Regions from separate parts of the Homo sapiens genome. Here region 1 is linked to region 2. The links come from fine-mapping of genetic effects on gene expression. Tissue or cell type: whole blood. Region 2 holds a variant in brackets; the other region holds the start of a gene. All regions are shown on one strand. Distances are between the middles of the regions.

What was found. PIP is the estimated chance that this variant, and not a neighbour inherited with it, causes the effect.
Region 1: SLC9B2 starts here. The variant in region 2 is fine-mapped to the expression of SLC9B2 in whole blood (TOPMed, PIP above 0.99).

What each region holds. Positions count from the first base shown.
Region 1 is chr4:103,070,856-103,081,929 of GRCh38, reverse strand. SLC9B2 (solute carrier family 9 member B2) reads left to right here and starts at 5,169. Exons shown (of 12, transcript NM_178833.7): 1 at 5,169-5,746. BDH2 (3-hydroxybutyrate dehydrogenase 2) reads left to right here. Exons shown (of 10, transcript NM_020139.4): 10 at 2,175-4,338. The coding sequence ends at 2,228. RefSeq lists an enhancer at 5,170-5,289 and a silencer at 5,400-5,509.
Region 2 is chr4:103,040,462-103,051,535 of GRCh38, reverse strand. SLC9B2 (solute carrier family 9 member B2) reads left to right here. Exons shown (of 12, transcript NM_178833.7): 5 at 1,154-1,296; 6 at 2,516-2,643; 7 at 4,310-4,485; 8 at 6,540-6,646; 9 at 8,091-8,240. Among named protein-coding and RNA genes, the nearest start is that of SLC9B1, 26 kb to the right of the region's middle. The variant C/G (reference allele first, on the strand shown) is at 5,916.

The sequences.
Region 1 (11,074 bases), 30 kb before region 2:
TCAAAGAAAGACCACTTCGATCTGAGCCACTAATTCTTCCTTATTCAGCTTTACATAAAATCTTGTAGCAAACAAAATGGAGGACTAAAAAAGTTAAAGTGCTCAATTTTCTGAGAGACAGTTCCTTTCAAAAATTATAATTGGGGAAACCCTGATTAAATGCAAGTCAAAAAATTGAACCTCCAGGATTATAAGAGCTCTAAGTGAAATGGGGAGAGGATTAAGCAGATTTGTGTTCAGTGGACACAGAATTCGCATGTGGTGTTTTAGTTTTACTTGTGACTTGTTTGGGAGAATTCCACTGGCTCTTTTTTCTCTATTAATTCTTACTTGTGGCCGGGCATGGTGGCTCATGCCTGTAATCCCAGCACTTTGGGAGGTCGAGGCAGGCGGATCACCTGAGTTCAGGAGTTTGAGACCAGCCTGACCAACATGGTGAAACCTCGTCTCTACTAAAAACAGAAAATAGCTGAGCGTGGTGGCGGGCGCCTGTAGTCCCAGCTACTCGGGAGGCTGAGGCAGGAGAATCGCTTGAACCAGGGAGGCGGAGGTTGCAGTGAGCCGGGATTGCGCCACTGCACTCCAGCCTGGGTGACAGAGTGAGACTCCGTCTCAAAATAAATAAATATTTTTAAAAATTCTTACTTGTTCATCATCGTGTATGGAAATTCCTAATTTAATCTCTTCCACTTTGCATCTGTTTAACAGTTTTTTCCTTAATAACTATTGTTTACTTTTAAATGGCTTAAGATGAAAGCAAAAATGATGCTTATAAGGTATAGAGCACAAGAAGGTCCTCCTCTGTTTTATGTCTCTGAATACTACAGGAACAAGGAACTGTAATGTGTGAGAAGAGGGAAGGAAAGGGGACTAGGCGGGAGCGAGGAGGGAACAACTGATAGCTCCTCTTCCCAGTAACTTGGTGCACACCAGATAGTTGGTGAATGTGACAAATACAGGGATTGAAATGTTTCCGTGACAGCGCAGTTTCTTCTCAGAACTTCTCCCAACTATTAACAACAATTGTTAATAGCTGGGGAAATTAATAGACAAATGTTTAATGAAGAAGCACATGAGCCTTTGTGATTTCTCTGAATCCGTATCTTCAGAATAGCTCATTTGATTTGGGTACTGCTGATAAGCTAAATTACCCTTAGTTAGCCAGAGCTTAGGTTACAAGATATTTGGAAGTGTTGTGGCTTGAAATGTGCTACAAAAGTACCTTTGGCTTTTTAGAGGTTTCCAGAGGAGTTCATATGTGTAACAGAGCTTGTCTTTTAAAAGAACTTGGGGGAGTTGGAGGTATTTCTTTGGTGAAGTGACTAATAACTCCCTAGTTCACCTACTGTATATTATCAGCTTTTATCTATTGAACTCTTAAAATTTCTCTATTCATTATGATATCCTTACTTCCTCTTCCATTGTTTCAGGCTTCAGATGAATTTAGACTGTTTGAGTCTTTATTATCCATTTTAAGTTAAAAGATTTTTAAACTTCTACCAAAAAGATCACTTCAGCCTTATTTAGAAAATGAAAAATTTATGGGAATAAACCAGTAATTATTTTTTAAATTCCTTAGTTTTATAAAGATTTGGATATCTGAAACTAATATAGAATATTTTTATAGCTTAATGGATTATAGTTATTATCATTCATGTAAATTTTTAAAACACATTTAGTGTGCTTCAGCTCCTACAATTATCCACTTATAATTGATCAACTAAATATATGCTGTCTTTTTTAAAAAACTGGTCATTAATATGACCATTTTATGACTGATACACTTATGTTCAAAAGTTTATTAGTGGCATAAAACTTAGCTAGTTTTGAATAGTTCTGAGTTTCAAAATGAAAATGTGCTTTTAGCCTATATCCTAATTTGGGGAATGGCTATACATCACTGTTCCTTAATTTGGGGATTCTGAGACCAAATACCTAACAGTGACAGGTGCTTAGACACCAGCCAGAGGCCATTTAGTTCCAGATCACAGGACACTCAGCAGTTCTAAATCAACCAAATGTTAATTTGGATTTCCCTGAATTAAGTGTTTAAGTGAGGTTTCCTGTTAGGACAAGGGTAAATTGTTTAGTTATCCTAGTCACAGGAAAATTTCAAAATACAGCCTGTATCAAACCTGGTTAATTGTTCTGTCTCCTTGTGTTTATCACTGCAGTCTGCTTATGTAACTGGTAACCCTGTCATCATTGATGGAGGCTGGAGCTTGTGATTTTAGGATCTCCATGGTGGGAAGGAAGGCAGGCCCTTCCTATCCACAGTGAACCTGGTTACGAAGAAAACTCACCAATCATCTCCTTCCTGTTAATCACATGTTAATGAAAATAAGCTCTTTTTAATGATGTCACTGTTTGCAAGAGTCTGATTCTTTAAGTATATTAATCTCTTTGTAATCTCTTCTGAAATCATTGTAAAGAAATAAAAATATTGAACTCATAGCAGGAGAATAGTTTTTAAAATAAATCTCGATTTGTTAGCATCTGTCTTAGTCACTTTGGGCTGCTATAACAAATTACCATAGATGGAGTGTCATAGACAACAAACATTTATTTTTCAGTCTGGAGGCTAGGAAGTGCAAGATAAAGGTGCCAGCAGATATAGTTTCTGGTTAGGGCCCACTTCCTGGTTTGCAGATGGTCCTCTTCTTGCTGTATCCTCACATAGCAAGAGCAGAGAAAAAAAGCGAGCGCTCATGTGTCTTTTTATAAGGACACTAATCCTGTTCATGAGGGCACTACCCTTATGACCTGATTACCTCCCAAAGGCCCCACCTCCTAATGTATCATATTGCAGGTTAGGATGTCAACACATGACTCTGGGGTGATACAAATAGGCCATTGCAGCATATACAATTAAAATGTAAATATGAAGAAAAAAGGAAGTTTTTGTTTTTTTGTGGGGGAGATGGGGGTTAAGGAAGAAGATAGTAATTTCAGGACTAGGCATGGTAGCTCATGCCTATAATTCCTGCACTTTGGGAGGCCAAGGCAGGAGGATCACTTGCGGCCAGGAGTTCAGGACCAGCATGGTTAACAGAGGCTAAGGCAGGAGGATTACTTGAGCCCAAGAGTTTGAGGCTGCAGTGAGCTGTAATCATGCCACTGCACTCCAGGGTGACAGAGCAAGACCCTGTACCTAAATAATAATAATAATTTCCACTTCATTTTTCAATATTCAAATATTTTTATATAATTCTGCATTGTTCTGTATGTAGATCCTAATTTTAAAATTTTACACCATCATAAATGAACAAAGGTAGGAAGGAGTTTGGCTTCAATAGCTTACAGTAAAAGGAGTAAAGGAGTTCAGCCTCAAAACGATATTGTTGACCTGTTATGTTATGAAAAATAATCCAGTGTTTATACTTAACGGATGCCATCCCTTATTATTTACTATTTTCTTAGTCTAACTAAACAATCTTTATTAAAATAAGCAATGATATTTGACATGGGCCTAAGAAATATATAGTTAGCTAACAATATTGTCAGTTAGAGGGATTTCTTTTCTAAATTAAGTACAGATTTCTTCACCAAACTCCAGGATAACAGAAAAGAGGACATAAAATTTGGACATAGTTTCTGGATAAATAAATGTAAATTTAAATATAAATTATGTAACAGGAAACAAACGAAATTAAAGAAAATAAATTTTTCAAGAAAAGTAAATTTATGGATGTTAATTCTGTAACATTGTCAGGGCAAAGTTTTTTGTTTTTATTTTAATTTAAGGGTTTTATGTTTGTTTTTTACTTGTTGCAACCTCAAATGACCAAATGGTATGATGCACACTGAGATACTCAATAAATGTGCAGTGATTCTTAGCCTTTTTTCCTAGAACTTTAATATTAACATGGAAAATTCTGAAATGGACAACAAAAAGATAACACTTTGTGTATGGGGAAGAATATCATGCAGTTGATGACGGTACATTAAAATTCACACAAAAGGACATTTTGACTAGCATTCAGAAAGAGTCCATTGATTATAAGATTATCTATGAGGTTTTGGACCGGGCACTACACTACCGAATTATGGCTAACTTTGGTTTGTGATCTAGACCAAGTCACCCAATCTATCTTGGATTTTAGTTTTCTGGTTTATGAAATTAAGGAGTTAAGCTAAATGACTTGGGTTTCTTTTCGTGTATCATAATCAAAATGCTGTAACTTCTCTAGTGAATTCATAGAACACTGACTCTTACAAGTATGTCATGAAATACTTTATGCTGTGAGCAGGTATACATGTATAATATATGTATAGCTATGAACAAATAAATTTTAAATAAATGCACAACGAATTCTACAAAATGGGCTCCAACATTAACAAATGATCTGAGTTAGTCTTTCTCACAGCCGACCATAAACTATAAAACATTTTTATAAACACTATCAGCAATAAAAACGAAGTAAAATCTAGCCAAAAAATTCAATGTTCTCCAAAGTCATGTTAATCAAATCAGGTGATATATTAATGAAGTACATATGACTAAAAGGAAAAATATATGTCATTCCTGTGGTAAGAGGAAGCTGAATGTCACTAGAAATTTTTACAAGCTTTAGGAGAGGAAGAGTTCCGTTTAGGAAAATAATCATTTCAGATGATCTGAAGAAGGGTATTGGATGGAACCTATCCAATAGGTTCATCACAAAAGAGGACCTGAGAGACAAGAATGAATGGTTTCTGACTGGTGGAGAAATTTGAGGATAATCTCCCTTGCTTGAAAAGCGGTGATTAAGATTGGCACTTGCTTACAGGAGTGAAAAACAGGTAAGGGGTGCGCGCGTCTTAACACACACAAGAGGAAATACAGAGAAAAGGAAGACACAAACATGAAATGAGAATTAAATGAAATAGAATCACACTGCTGATAGAAGGGTTAAAAATCTAAAATACAACAAGAAGGGCAGGTGTTAAGCGATAAAGGGGGGCAGAACAAGTCTTTTATCCGGCCATTTAATTGGTCACCTTAAGAAAGAATCCTATCTTCCCACCGCAGCTGAGAAGACACTTCTAAGAGGTACAGCTAAAAGGTGGAGGACTGATAGACAACTTAGAGGTTGGTTTCGGGAACGATAAAACAAGTAACGGGCTGCCCGGCCTGCGCCGCGGAGTCCCGAGGAGCCTGCGCTGTGCTCCTCTCGCGGTGTCTCGTCATCTCCGGGAAGACTCGGCGCCTGGGTCCGCGCTCTCTGGGTAAGCTTTCCGGGAAGCTTTCCCGGGAGCTCGCTGGTCCTGGCCCCAGAAGCCTGCGGACCCGCCCAGGGAGGATAAGCAGCTGAAAGACCGCGCGGTGCCGCTCCGAGGCCCCGGGACGTGGGCCCATGGTCGGCCTGGCGCCACCTTTCCGGGGGAAGCCACGCGCACCAGGCATCGCACGCGGCTCTGCACCCGCGCCGCCGGACCTGAAACCCGGCGGAGGGCACACGGGGCTGCCGCTGCGGGCCCCGGACCAACCCATGCTTACTCCGGAGCCTGTACCGGCGCCGACGGGTCGGACCTCCCTGCGCGGTGTCGCCCAGCGGGTTCGTGCGAAAGGCGGGGCCGACTACACGCGGTGCCGCGCCCTGAGACCGTTTATCTGCAGTCAACGCAGCCTCCCGGCTCAGCCTGGGAAGATGCGCGAATCGGGAACCCCAGAGCGCGGTGGCTAGACCGGGCTCCGCCGCCTCCCCCACAGCCCCTTTCCTAATCGTTCAGACGGAGCCTGGTCGACTTCGCCGGAGACTGCCAGGTGAGAGGCCCCAGAGACACTAAGGGTAAAAATAAACCCAGCGCCAGCGGCGGGTACCCTGTAGGCCTGCTGGACCGGAGACGCGAGCGAGGGGCCCAGCCTTTTCTGTTTGTACACCCGGTGACGGGCGCGTGTCTGTTTACTGTTGTAAGGTGTTGGCGTGGGTTTTCTTGCTTGCTTTTATTTTAGTTCTCAGATTAACCAGAGGGGGTGTTGCCTTTGTGGACTGGGTTAGCATCCTCGAGGTGCTAAGAATCATCGTATGCTATTGACTGAAGAATATAACCTTAAGACAGCAGTAGCTGCTGTAAGAGATAAAGTAAAACATCTCAGTAACTAAACATAGTTCAGGCTTATTTCTCGTTCATGTCAAGTCCATTCACGTGTTCAGCTGTTGGCCTTCTACTCAATTATTCAGGAACCCAAACTCCTTTTATATTATGGCTTTGCTATCCCCTAAGACCTTGGAGTCCTTAGTTTCCAGGCAACGGACAGAAAAAGAAAAGCTACTAGAGGATTGCATGAGGATTGTTTCTTATGGGTGAGGACTGGAAATCACATACTATTTATGTCCACATGCCATTGACCAGACTTCAGTCACATGCCACACTGACCTGCAAGGGAGACTGGAAATGTACTATGGACCCAGGCAGAAGAGTAAACGATTTTGGTAAACACATATCAGTCTCTGACCATCCCTTAAAGGGCAGACTGCATCTTAGTCATCTTTGTTACTCTTGTGCCTATCACACCAGAGAAACTTGTTAAGGCTTTGTGAGGCCGAGGTGGGCATATCACCTGAGGTCAGGAGTTCGAGACCAGCCTAGCCAACATGGTAAAACCCCATCTCTACTAAAAATATAAAAATTAGCTGGGCATGGTGGTGCACGCCCGTAATTCCAGCTATTCCGGAGGCTGAGGCTGAAGAATCGCTTGAACCCAGGAGGCACAGGTTGCAGTGAGCCAAGATTGTGCCACTGCACTCCAGCCTAGGTGACAGAGCAAGACTCCATCTCAGAAAAGAAAAAAAAGGAAATGAAACTTGTTAAGGGATGGGGTTGTTATGTGTCTAAAGTTGAAACTTAACCATATTTCATTGTGATTGCTTAGGAATCATTTATCATCCTTTATCATCCTGTAACTAGATTACAAGATCTGAATATAGGAACTATTTAAGACCGTTCACTTCTGAATCCTCAGCTCAAGGACTGGGACGTAACAAGAGCTTAATAGCTCTTGTTTGTTGAATGAATGAATGAATCATCAGAGAGGAAAACGAGGGAGACAGTTTGTCAATGTTGGAGTTAGGAAATACTGAGAAGGTGACATTTGAGTTAGATTTTGAATTTCTTCAAGTAGAAAAAGCAGAAATGAAACTCCAGGCAGCAATAGTAGTGATATTTTATTGTTGTTGTTTTGTTTCATGAGTGGAAATTTGGAAAACAACCAAACGTTTATAAGTCCAACTTTTCTTCATTCAGTATTCAAATATTACAATTTAACTTCAGGGTAGAGGAGGGGAAATACATAATCTTACAATCCAAATAATTTCTGTTGACTAAAAGAATGGCAGTGAAAACCTTGGCACTAATTTTTAACTTTATAAAATGTTATTTTCTGGACATTTTTGAGAAATTTCAATACAAAGGCAGTGTTCTGATCATTCATTGTCTATGATGATTTTGCACTGTAACAAGAAGCTAGAAAGATAGAAACTAAAGTTTGTAAGACAGAGGTTCCTCATCACTGCTGTTCATCAGGGCTTCTCAGGGATGGTTCTGCAACAAAATCACCTGTTATATTGGTTAGGATGCTTTTGGCTGCAAGTAACAGGATATTCAGCCAAAACTCCCTTCAAAAATACAGATGTACTTTGCTCATACATGAAGATGTTTGAAGGTAGGTGGGTCCAGGGTTTGTTCAGTAGCTCAGTAATATCAGGGCTCTATGTTGCTTTCTGTGTTCAGCTAATCTTGACTTTTCTTCATGGGTGAATGATGGCTGCTAGAATTGTCCCAAGAAACCCATCCACAATCCCAACTTCCCTTGCCTCTTTACCTGGTCATTTAAAGACAAAAAGAGGAGAGGATTTTCCTCCTCTCTCTCTGTCTTTATTAAGAAGGAAAATCTTATGTAATATGCCCCAATAGTCTTGCCTACAAATTCCAATGGCAAGAAATGAATCATGCTCACTCCTTAGCCAATAAGTGGCAAAGAGGAATGGTGTTACAGAGATTGATTTACACCAATAATGACTTATCCCTAGGGCGGGAGAAGGGTCCTACTGGCATACCTGAACACTTGGCATTTAGACAGGCCATAAGTCATGTCTGTCCCACTTGGGGTAGATTCGGTCTCTGTAGATTCTGATTTTAGTGGGCCTAGAAATAATATTTTAAACTTTTAGTAAGTATATTTCACTTTGGTGAGGAGAGAGAATAGAAAGGATGAAAGCAAGTATTGGGTCCCTTATGTAGGGGTAATTTCCTTTTATTCTTATCTCATTATATAGTGTTTTCCTTCATGAGTCAATGAAATTACTAAATCAATTAACCAAATAAAATAGCGGTTGTTTTCCTTTGGTAACTTGGCCACATGTATTTGACACACCTAAGTCTTTCAGATAAGGTAGTTCTCATTCAGGGAAACACTGTTAGTCATTTTAGTAATTAATTGTCTAAGAAAGTGTTAAGCCCTACTCTGAGCCTGATCTGAATTCCTCATTGCTGGGTAGGGCTCCTTTTGGGAAATGACCATTAGATCAGTGTTGATAAGCAAATACAGAAACTGGAATGTTTCTGTATGTTCTATGTAGAAATACTGTATGAGACTGAGAACCTATACGTTCAACACATGAATGGATGAACACAAAGGCAGGAGATTGTTGTTATTATTATCATTATAGAGTATTGAACAATCATAGTGATGCTCTTTCAAAGGCATGAATACAACCCAGAGTACTCTAGCAATGTCTTAGTCCATTTTTGTTACTGTAACAAAATACCACAAACTAATTAATTTATAAATAATCAAATTTATTTCTCACAGTTCTGGAGGCTGGGAAGTCCTAGGTCAAGGTGCTAATTAGATTTGATGTCTGTTACACACTTGATCTCTGCTTGCAAGATGGTGCCTTCTTGCCATGTCTTCTTCACATGGAGGAAGAGACTAATGCTGTGTTCTCAGATGGTGGAAGGGAAAGAGCCAAAGGGACTAGGCTGCTCCCTTTGACCTCTTTTATAAGAGCACTAGTCCCATTCATGAGGGTTGAGTGCTGGTGACTTAATCACTTCCCCAAAGTACCTCCCTCTTAATACCATCACCTTGGCAGTTACATTCCAAAATCTGAATTTTGGAGGGACACAAACATTCAAGCCATAGCAAGCAATATATGTAAATTCTCCATAAGATTACTCCTTTAAATGTCAGCCTATCCAAATCACAGGCAGCAAATAGCAAGAATAAAAAGTCTTTATCCATATCTTTTAGCAGTAACTGAAATGATAGCAGTAAGTCTATTTTACTTGACCGAGAGCCTACGGACATTTGTAAGTTGATAGTTCCTTTATTTCTTCTGGAATATTACAGAAAGTACTTGTAAACATTTACATTAGTAAGATAATATGAAAAAGAGAACATTTAACAAATATCTCTCTATGTGAAAACATATTTACAGAAATGGTTTCCAAAGTATGCTCCACTTGCCAGAAGGAACAGGGGTGAGTAGACAGGGCTCCTGCAGCGCCACCTTAGTCGTTCCATTTGTAGGATTTAAGGATTAGGTTTCATTTGATGAAAGATATTTGACATAAAGATATGAAGACCAGGGCTGGGTGCGGTGGCTCACGCCTGTAATCCCAGCACTTTGGGAGGCCAAGGCGGGCAGATCATGAGGTCAGGAGTTTGAGACCAGCCTGGCCAACATGGTGAAACCCCATCTCTACTAAAAATAGAAAAAGTAGCTGGGCATGGTGGCCGGCACCTTTAATCCCAGCTACTCGGGAGGCTGAGGCAGGAGAATAGCTTGAAACCGGAAGGCAGAGGTTGCAGTGAGCTGAGATCTCGCCACTGCACTCCAGCCTGGGCAAAAGAGCGAAACTCCACCTCAAAAAAAAAAAAAAAAAAAACATGAAAGCCAAACTTGAAAATTTTGAAAACCACTGCTATTGGTGATTCTGGGCAGTTACTCATCTTCTTTGAAAAATCACAACTACAAAAAATGATTTTAAATTGTGGCAGGTGTTATTAAGTTACCTCAAATCAAATCACCAGACTGTATCTATGAGAAATATTACCAAGAAATGTGGTACCATTTTCTTTTCTCTAAAGCTTTAGGAATTGAGTAGATTATTTTTAAATGTATTTAAAATTAGGGCCAGGCAGGGTGGCTCACATCTCTAATCCCAGCACTTTAGGAGGCCAAGGCCAGTGGATCACTTGAGGTCAGGAGTTTGAGACCATTCTGGCCAACATAGTGAAACCCATCCCTATTAAAAATACAAAAATTAGCCGGGTGTGGTAGCTCACACCTGTAATCCCAGCACTTTGGGAGGCTGAGGCAGGTGGATCATGAGGTCAAGAGATCGAGACCATCCTGGCCAACATGGTGAAACCCCGTCTCTACTAAAAATACAAAAATTAGCAAGGGATGGTGGCATGTGCCTGTAGTCCCTCAGGAGGCTGAGGCAGGAGAATCACTTGAACCTGGGAGGTGGAGGTTGCAGTGAGCTGAGATCGTGCCATTGCAATCCCTCTTCAGCCTGGTGACAGAGTGAGACTCCTTCTAAAAAAAAAAAAAAAAAAAATACAAAAATTAGCCAGGCGTGGTGGTGCATGCCTCTAGTCCTAGCTACTTGGGAGGCCAAGGTAGGAGAATCACTTGAACCGAGGAGGCGGAGGTTGCAGTGAGCCAAGATCATGCCACTGCACTCCAGCCTGGGTGACAGAGCGAGAATCCATCTCAAAAAAACAACAACAACAACAACAAAATATATATATATATCAAATTACATAAGAAAATCCTACATAAGAAAATCTTTCTTAGAAAATAAGAAAGAAAGTCCAGCCACTCCTCTTCCATTTCCCTTCCCAAAGGCAACTGCTGTTAAAGGATTTTTTTTTTCTGTTTCCTTCTTAACAGGTACATATATCAAACTGCTTATATTCTTGATCTCTTAAGGACAATTCTTTCAAGTGGGGAGAAAAGGTTAAGAAAACTTTTTTCTTTTTTCTTTTTTTATACAGTCTTGCTCTGTCGCCCCCACTATAAATGACTCTTAGATTGCTGTCTTTTTCATCTCTTTCACTGTCATCAGTCACTAATGCTGC
Region 2 (11,074 bases):
AGAAAGACCACTGCCACAGCATTCAGAACTTACGAGACTTTCCCGTAGATAAATGGCAGTGATGAGAGATACCTGGAGTGATGCTTTCATGTGCAGCAGGTTGTCTCTCTTCTCCCATCTTGCATCACAAAATAACCTAACTTCAGTAAATTTATTTAGTTGTTTGAAGTGTGGTGCTTATAGGGACAAGGTGAGAAGAGGGCACTGCTGGAGAAGCATGGAGGGAAGAGGCTCAGTCTCTCACAGAAACCTTTCCCTTTGTGTGGGCATGTGGTATCAATGAAGGCAGAATTCCCTCACTAACTACTCAGCTTCCTCAGTTACACTCAACTACTTGCAGTTTTCAGAATGAGTCACTTTTTCTTTTACCTTTGAATAAACTACTGTCTTTTCCAGAAACTTCTCAACTCCCCTAGCCGTTTCTTCATCCTCTTCCCCCTTCTCTAAATCCCCCTTCCTGCCTCAGCTCATGTAACATCCCCCTCATGCCTTCATAAAATTGGTATTGTCCGTTTGTCTTGTTCCCTAGAGGCTGAAAGCTTGTTGAAATGTAATCCATTATTATATGTGTGATACATACTCTAGTGTCTAAACTACTGAAGGCATTCAGTACAGTTGAATGACTGAGTGAAAGAAGAGTCACCAGCTGACATGACAGGGCAATGTCCATTTCATCATAATTGACATCTAAAACCTTTGCAAAGTAGATTATCTGTCTCTTATGAAATTATCTAATCTGAAGGTAAAATAGAATCCATATAAGTATTTATTGATATTTCAAGTAATCTGACATAGCAAATAATTTCATGCGCTGTTTGCTGTTTGCACGCAAAGGGCTGACTGAGCTGGCATTGTATTAAAACATTTTATATTTAGAATTTGATCATACTCTCTATCCAAATGCTGCATCTTGTCTCCCTTTTAAGTTCAGTTATTTTGGGAATATTAATTATTATAATCTATCTTTTTATCTGTACATTATTTTCTTAGCTGCTTTATTATACTAATTTTTACTTAAAAGTTTAACTTAATTTCTTCTAAGCATAAGTGAAGTGGTTCCTGGGATTATATAGTAGTCTGTATAAAATTAAAGTACTAAAAATATTTTCTGTATTTGAAAACTAACTAGATATGTTTGATTTCTTCGTTCAAGGCATGCTGCTTGCAGGGTTTCTCATCAGAAATATCCCAGTCATCAACGATAATGTGCAGATCAAGCACAAGTGGTCTTCCTCTTTGAGAAGCATAGCCCTGTCTATCATTCTGGTTCGTGCTGGCCTTGGTCTGGATTCAAAGGTATGAAATGTAAATTTCTCATTATTAAATAGGAATCTTGTTTCTTCAATGCTTCAGGTATCTAACAGAATCACTAAGCATTAGGAAATGGATGTGGACACTTTGCATGACATTCTTGAGAATAAAATAGAATTTATTTCATGGAGGATTGTTTTGCAAGTGAGACCTTGTTGTGGTTTGCAATAACTCAAAAGGTGGTCTCATTTTCTTCCTTTTTTTTTTTTTTTGAGACAGAGTCTCGCTCTGTCACCCAGGCTGGAGTACAGCGGCTTGATCTCAGCTCACTGCAACCTCTGTCTCCCGGGTTCAAGTGATTCTCCTGCCTCAGGCCTCCCAAGTAGGTGGGATTACAGACATGCACTACCACACCCGGCTAATTTTTGTATTTTTAGTAGAGACGGGGTTTTGCCATGTTGGCCAGGCTGGTCTCAAACTCCTGACCTCAGGTGATCTGCCTGCTTCCCCCTCCCAAAGTGCTAGGATTACAGGCATGAGCCACTGCGCCCAGCCGGTCTCATTCTCTTCCTTGGAGAAAGGTAGAGTCTGTCTATGGGGCCAGCACCAAGAATAAAGGCCCCACTTTTCTCTGATGTACATATAGACCAGGGTTATAAATAATGCTCACAGGGGAGAAAACAACATATTTTTGGTTTGCAAAGCCCTATACAAGTGTTCAGGGCTAACTATACTAGCTCAGGAAACTGCCTAATATATAAAATGAGGGTCAAGTATGCCTTTTTAATGCTTTTTTTTCATGTATGTTTTTGAATACAGGAATGAATTTTCTTGGGGGATCAGGCTCTTCACTTTAGTCTCATTCTGGGACCACAAATTATAAATAAAACTAATGAGAATGTTAAATTAGCTAGAGATTATGAACACAGATGCTGAAAGCAGCCTGCCTGGGTTCAAACCTGGCCCCATCACTCACCAGTTTCATGATCTTGGGCAAATGCCTTTAGCCTGTGCCTTTTCAGATGAGGACATCTAAAAATATGGGGATAATAATAGTATTACCTATCTTATAAGGTTGCAGTGAGGACTTAATAAGCTGTCTGAAAACACTTGGAGTGCTAAAATGTTTGTTAAATACAACTCATTACCTTGAAAACTCATGATGACCCAGACGTGGTCCATATACTGAAGAGAAAGCATTCAAGGTCATCTTCTCTGCACATCTTCAGAGGATTATATTAGGATGTCTACTTTTCTATTTCAGGCCCTGAAGAAGTTAAAGGGCGTTTGTGTAAGACTGTCCATGGGTCCCTGTATTGTGGAGGCGTGCACATCTGCTCTTCTTGCCCATTACCTGCTGGGTTTACCATGGCAATGGGGATTTATACTGGGGTAATGATTGTTTCTTTGTCATATGAAAATATGTAGGGACATTTAGGGCTTTCCCTGATTGCATACAAGAGAATGCATAATAGAATTTTCTTATAGATATCAGAAAATGCAACATAGATGTTACAGCATAATTTAAATATTCTAACTTCAAAACATAGTTTATGTGTTAATAGGCGCTAACTCTTACAGTTAGCACCTACTATTCAAACTGTTGAAGAAGTCGTGGTCTTTTGCCTACACCTGATTCAATGCCTGTTAAAGAGATACCGGATTCCACCTAACGTCTGCACAAAGGATAATAAACACAGCAACAGTGATCAACAGCTACTATTGTTTTCCTCCTGTCACCAGACTATTATGACTTGGCAGTTCTGCTGTCTCTTCGTTCCACTGTCAGTTCTTTACTTCCAACAGTTAAGAGCCACACAAAGTAAATAAATAAGACAGGACTTAGTAAGAATTTAGTGCTAATAAGAGGCAAGAAGTAAGAAATTCTTCTCATGGTTAAGTCTCTGGAACTCTACTCCCTGGATTCAAATCCCAGCCTTGTGATTTTTCCGGTGTGTGATCTTTAACAAGTATTTAATCTCTCTGTGCCTCAGTTTCCTCAATTATAAAATTAAGATAGATTTTGTCTATTTTATAGGGTTGTTGTGAGGATTAAATTAGTGAATACGTGTAAAGTGCTCAAAATGGTGTCTGGTACATAGTAAATACTGTAAAATGCTTTCTGCTGTTACCACTGCTGTTGTTACTGGTATCAATGTGACTGTCATATCGTTTTCTTCTAATCTGTTGCCTTATTTGACATAGCAAGCCCTAATAGAAGGCCTAGCATCACTGGGTTCCAAATCAGAAAGTCCATGCATTTTCAAACCTTATAACATGAATTTTTTTGTTTAAAAAAGCCAGCATCCTGGGGCCTACCCTCATTAGGCCTTCTATACCACTAATAAATATATCTTTTTAGGCAACCTAAGTAGTCTGAAGCAAGTTGTCTATGGCTACATTTTGAAAAACAGTGTTCTGTAGAAGTTTTACACATACATGTTTTTCTGGATTCATGCTTCTCTGCCATTTGAAAGACTGTAGTTGTCAATGATAGACTGGATTAAGAAAATGTGGCACATATACACCATGGAATACTACGCAGCCATAAAAAAGGATGAGTTCATGTCCTCTGTAGGGACATGGATGAAGCTGGAAACCATCATTCTCAGCAAACTATCGCAAGGACAAAAAACCAAACACCACATGTTCTCACTCATAGGTGGGAAATGAACAATGAGAACACATGGACACAGGAAGGGGAACATCACACACCAGGGCCTGTTGTGGGGTGGGGGGAGGGGGGGAGGGATAGCATTAGGAGATATACCTGATGTTAAATGACGAGTTAATGGGTGCAGCAGAACAACATGGCACATGTATACATATGTAACAAACCTGCACGTTGTACACATGTACCCTAAAACTTAAAGTATAATAAAAAAAAGAAAAAAAAACAAAAAACAATTCTTATTAAAGTTTGTTTTCTTAATTTAGAAAAAAAAAAAGAAAGACTGTTGTTGTCCAAGTATAACCCCTAAAAAGTGGAGGGCATTATAATTTCAAAATAGTAATAAGTAAGATGTTATCATAAATGTTTAAAATGCTGTCTGCCTAGTTTTGTTTTAGGTGCTGTATCTCCAGCTGTTGTGGTGCCTTCAATGCTCCTTTTGCAGGGAGGAGGCTATGGTGTTGAGAAGGGTGTCCCAACCTTGCTCATGGCAGCTGGCAGCTTCGATGACATTCTGGCCATCACTGGCTTCAACACATGCTTGGGCATAGCCTTTTCCACAGGTAACCTAATCAGTTCACAACAGGCTTTACTCTTGCATTCTAGGGACGTAGGTTAAAATGTTATAAGCATGACATATTTGCTTGATAATTGATTAAGGCAAATTAAAAATAGGCAAAAGAACACTAAGAGTTCTGTACCTAAGGAGGGTCCAGAAGCTGTCTGTCTTTACTCTCTTGCTCCCTCTAGAGACTGCTCAAGTAGCATGCAGTAGGTGCAGTACGGCAGGGGCGGTAGAAGGTAGAAAGATTTAAAGAACAGTTTCTGCTTGAAGTGATCCAGGAACGTTCAGGCTTCACACAAAAGATGTGTGGAGACTTCACACAAAAGATGTGTGGAGACTTCACACAAAAGATGTGTGGAGACTTCACACAAAAGATGTGTGGAGACTTCACACAAAATATGAGTGGGTTTTTCAAGGAGCACAAATGACAGAGAGCAGTCCAAGTGAAAGGAACAGCATGCCTTTAAAATAAGAAAAATTTCTCTTCTCTCCTCTTCAGCTTTTTATGGGTAATAACAGCAATGATTTTAATGGATGTCCCATTAATACTTAGTAAGTGTCTGAAATTGAGGTATTTTGTTTCAAGTATAGTAAAAGAGGAACTTAAGTTATTTTTTCTCCCACTGTTGTTCAACACCTATATTAAACTGATGTGAACAGATAGTACGCTTGATCTTAGCCAAAAGGCCAAAAGCAGTTCAACACTTTTATTATCCTGTGGTACAGCACAAGTTTAAGTTCATTTCTTAATCTTATGTTCAAAATTGGGATATAAAATTTGCAACATTATATGATTGACAAAGTATAATTGTAATCTAAGTTTAGCTTTAGATTCTGTAGTGGGAACACATCTTCTTGGCAGGTTATACATTCTCGTTATCTCCCTATAGTTATCTCCCCATTCTGTGATTGTGTATGATTTATGCCTGTTACCTAGAATCCCACCCTGTCTCATTGCTCCAGAGCCTGCCTTCCATCCATTCCCTAGTAAATTGATTTTCTTAAAACATTGTTTTCATTACATTACTTTCTTGTTCAAGAACCTTTGAGGATGCTCTCTTACCTATTAAGTCAAATTCATACTCCTATTTTTAATGCTACTACACATACCCAAATTTATGTTCTTACCACTTTCCTGGTATATACCTTTAAAACAATTGTTCTCAGCCTTACCATCACACTAGAATTACCTGGGCGATTTTTAAAAATACTCTTATGTAGGTCCTATCTTAGACAATTAAATCAGAACCTTTTGGAGTGGAAACCAGTGCAGCTTGGAATAGGAACCACAGCTTTAGAGCAACAGAGTTTGCATTAGAATCATGGTGGTGGGAGGAGAAAGGAAAGAGGCAGTGGGGTTTTCATAAGCTACAGCTCGAAGAACCTTCCTAGTTGACTCTGCTGTGTTTCCTCTCCCCGCCCCACCCC[C/G]CCACCAACTACGTGTGGTCCTTAGACCTTTTGGATCTGAGCCCTGCTAGACTTACTGAATCAGATTTTTAGGGGTGGGGCCCAAGACTTTTTTTTTTTAATCACCTCAATATACCAGAGACTAAAGCTAATTAGCTACTTTCTACACATTCATAGTAAATTATTACCACAATAGCTTAAGCATAATGCTACTATCACAACTAGATGTTTTTAACAGTCATAGCATTACCTGGTAGAAAGCGATCCTAGCTAAATAAAATTACTTCAGAGGTAATTTTATTTAGATAAGAAGAATGATTGCCATAATAACAAGAGACCACAGAAACCAGTTAGTACATTTTTCTTAGGACAGTCTGTGAAGAAGTGCTTTATGTGTGGAGAAACTTTAATATAATTTTCTGCACAATGTGCTAACAAAAAATTTTTTTTAATTAAAGTTTCCTAAATCCTATATGCTATGGGGGAAAATGTAGGTTCCACTTACATATTTAAGAATATGGAAAGCAGAAACTGTCTTTAAAATGTTTCTTCTTTGTAATTAGATGCTTCATGTTGATGATTGTGGAATAAAACCTGTGTATTTGTTGGATTTAGAGCTCTAAGTTTTTTTAATATATTTTTCAGGCTCTACTGTCTTTAATGTCCTCAGAGGAGTTTTGGAGGTGGTAATTGGTGTGGCAACTGGATCTGTTCTTGGATTTTTCATTCAGTACTTTCCAAGCCGTGACCAGGTGAAAGAAATAATATGTGGGAAAGTTGTGCTCTGAAATATCATTGGGAAAACATTCTAGAACACTTCCTTCAAAGACAGATGTGAAGGACATGTTTGAGCAAATGGTTCCTCATTTTAAAATTGCTTACTGCTATCCATGAGATTTATGAAGTGGGCTCAATATAGAAGATTTTAATGCAGTCCTGTAATGGGTTCCCGTATTATATTCTGTACATTTCAAATTCCACTGTAAAACAAATAATATCGTTCCAAAGTAATAGGATATGCAAGTTTTTTAAGTGTTCATAATACTCAACTAAACCCAGATATATAATAGCTTTTTTGTGCCCTTTTTTAGTATCAAAATACCTTAGATTCTAGCCAGGCCTGGTAGTCCCAGCCACTCAGGAGGCTGAGGCAAAAGGATCCCTCTGGGAGTTTGAGTCCAGTCTGGGCAACACAGCAAGAGCCCATATCTAATACATACATGCATACACACATACATAAATCAGTCAATCATCATCTAGTGCCACTTTGTTCAGTACAGTAGCCACTAGCTACACGTGGCTATAGCAGATACAGAACATTTCCATCATCACTAAACATTCTATTGGAAAACACTGCTCTAGTACAACCGACAAAATAGTTCATAAAGAGATTTCTATTACTATGACCATTTTACTGATAAGGAAATTGAGGCTTAGGCAGGATAAGTGACTTGAACAAGGTCACATAGCTAGAAAGCGGTGGAACTGGGAATGAACTCAGGTAATTCACCTTCAGAGCTTGCATGCCTTTGCCAAGTCAAGCACTTTTAAAGACCTACTTTCTAAAGTGATCAAGAAGTTTAAAAGCCTGGACAGGGAAAAGTAAAGGGAAAAAAAGTACACAATTCTTAGACTTTAAAACAACAGCAACAAAAACTACTGTCAGTCTAGAACCTCTTAAAGCTTCCTGGTTTCCAAAGATTTAGAAAGAAAAACCAAGGGGGCGTCAAATTTAAAACAGTAAACATAGAGCCTGAAAATAATAGAGATATATATTTAACCTTCACACAAACCCTATGATGTAAATGCTTTCAGGAAACAAAGCTTGGAGTGGTTAAGTAATGTGGCTACTACATACACCAACAATGTATAAAAACTATAAATTTAACCTTGGTCTGTCCAGCTCCAAAGCTCATGTACTTTTTTTCTGCTACTTCATTAAGTGCTGTGAAATTCTGCATTGATAACTGTAGAGGAGAGAATTGGTGTTCCTGAAAGAAGAGCTCACCATTGCAGTGTGCTAACTCTGCTTTTGTTTAAGAAGAGAAAGTAAATGTTATGTAGTGCACTTGTTTTGTCTATTTATATAGACATTTTAATTTTTATTTTCTTTCTAAATCCTAGATATGGAAAAAATCAATCATTAAAAATCAGGGATTTGAAATAATTGAGCAAATGAATTTTTTTCTCCTAAAGGACAAACTTGTGTGTAAGAGAACATTCCTTGTGTTGGGGTTGTCTGTGCTAGCTGTGTTCAGCAGTGTGCATTTTGGTTTCCCTGGATCAGGAGGACTGTGCACGTTGGTCATGGCTTTCCTTGCAGGCATGGGATGGACCAGCGAAAAGGTGAATTTCATTTTAAGTTTTTCTGCTCATGACTCTTTTCTAATGAGATTAAGTTGGCTTTCCAGATACTTTCTTAGCATCAAATTAATAAAGTATTTCATTATAAAAGCTATCTTAATGTGCATATACAAATGTACACCCAGTGTTCATCTTTTTTTTCCCCTTACACATCAATCTATAACTTGATGTCTTTACTTAAAATATATCATGGTCATACTACCGTAATGCCTTCCTTATTCTTTGTAATGGCTACGGAGTATTGCATTTTATAGATATTTACGTTGTTTCTAGTTTTCTGCCAAGATAAACAGTGCTTCAATAATATATCCTTACATACCATATTTCATCTGAGTCTGTCAATTCTAAAAAACACAATTATTTTATATGACACCAAGAAAGAAAAAAAATAGTGCCAATTAAACGATAACATAACATTCTAATTTCAGAAATGTTAAAATATAAAAATATGTGTCTTAAAATAAATAAAATATAGTATATATTTTAGTTTATACAATAAATTTCTAGAAATCAGATTGCTCTAGGAAAGAGTACTCACATTTATACTTTTGATAATATCAATATGACCTTTTAAAAGACTGTACCAATTTATATTTTTACCAATATTATGTGAGAGGATCTGTTTTTCTGATCTAAGTCTTTGAGATATTTTGCTGATATTATGAATTAAAAATATATCTCATTATTATTCTGATTTTCATTTCTTTATGGGCAATGCTAATCATGTTTTCATATGATTACTACCCAGTTTGTTCAAAAGCCTTTGCCATTTTTATAAGGTTGCTTTGGTTTTTCATACTGATTTTCAAGATTATTAAGAATATTCATTTGGTTTATATGTATTATGGAAGTTCACTAGTTGTCATTTATTTATTTTAATTTTCAGATTCATTTTTGTAGATTTGAACTTGATAGGATTGTATGCTATTCTGCTTAATGAAGATGTCGGTGACCTAAAATAAATGCAGCTATATCATTTTGTGATAATCTTACAAAGCCTGAAGACAACTGTTCAAAATAATTAAACTTAAATAATTAAAATAATGCCATATGGAAAATATGGAAACGTTACAAATTTTGAGATGAGATATATAATCATAACTCAATTAAGTGGATCTCTGTGGGGATCTTCCATAGACAGCATTCACTGTGGGTAAATAACATTCATTCTCATATCAACAGTGTAACAGAAATGCATTCTGTCACCAGCTCTTTAAAAATCTTTGCAAATTGAAATCAACTCATTATATTATACTGTCATGGGTAAAAAGAGAAAAAGGAATTAATAAATTTTTGTTGCTACGCTGTATGGCTCTGTATGAGGCACTAAGTGGATATGGTCATTTATTTTCACAAAATTACCTTTGAAAAGTATTATGATTTCTACCTTATAGAAGCTGTAAGTCAGAAAGACTTAAATAACATGTCCAAGGTCACACAATTAGAAAATGGCACGGAGATTTAAGCTCAGATTAATTTGACTCCAAGGTGAGTTGTACTATGCTGTAGTACAACTGTAGCATTATTGTGCATGACACAATTTTATATTTTGACATCTGTTTGAGTAACACTTACCATGTGTATTTAAACATAATTCTAAACTTTTGCAGTTTAAAATTCAGCTTCTAAATTCATAAATGATAGGATAAAAAGAATAAACAATGAGAAGGAGCAATATCATTTGAAACAGAGCATAAAAAAGTAGTTTTAGCAACAGAGAAATGAAGGAGAGACTGATACCTCCTGCAAGTGGGCACTGGATAAGAGCACAGAAAGAAAAAGGAGGGAAAGGGAAACTGATCACTTCCGATTACACTGTTATTCAGAGAAACTATAATGTGGTTATCTATAAATGATTCTTATAAACCAAACCATTGTTCCCTTTGTTTACATTTCCTGTAGTCCTGCTATGTAGAAGGTCAGTGTAACCCCACAACCAGAAAGATAACTATTAACATTTTTAAAAATATTTACCTCTAGTAACTCTGCTATGTGAATCTCTTTATCTACACACATGGATGCACCATAGTTGGGTTTTTGGTTTTTTTACCCATTCCTTTATATATAGTTATAAGGTTATTTCCAGTCTCTGCTATTTTAAATTATGCTGAAATGATCAGAAATTGATCACTTCCTTAAGGAATATTCCTAACAGTAAAATTTGGGGGTGAAATAATATGAACATTTTGAGGTTTTCGACACATATTACCAGACTGCTTTCTAGAGTTCTATCCATTTACTTTTCTACCAGTAAAATATGAAGTACCTGTCTCATTACAACTTCACCTTAGAATAGTTTTCTCAAACTTTAGCAGAATTACCTAGAAGGATTGTTAAATTTGAGTTCTGGGCCCTACTACAAATTTCTGATTTTAGACTGTGGTGGGGCTTGAGAATTTGCACGTAATTAATTTCCAGATGAGGCTGATGCTGCCAGTCTAGGGACCACACTGTGAACCACTGGCTTAAAATATTATTGCTTTTAATCTTTAGCCATACTGATAGGTAAAAAGTTGCATCTTGTTTATTTTGTGTTTCTTTAACAGTGAAATTGAACAGTTTTTCACATATTTAGACACTTGTGTGTTTTTTCTTTTTCTTTGGTAGGTCTTTTGTTCATTATCTTCCAAAGTATAATGTGTGTTGATTATCCATCTGTAAGATACACCCCCAATACACACATCTATATAAGTGATGACACAGTCTTGATTACCCTGGGCTTATCTTTTATACACAGCCTATTCAATGACTCCATTTTGTTTATAGGCAAATTCATTTTAGTTTTGGCATTATGAAAAACCCACAAGAAGATACGT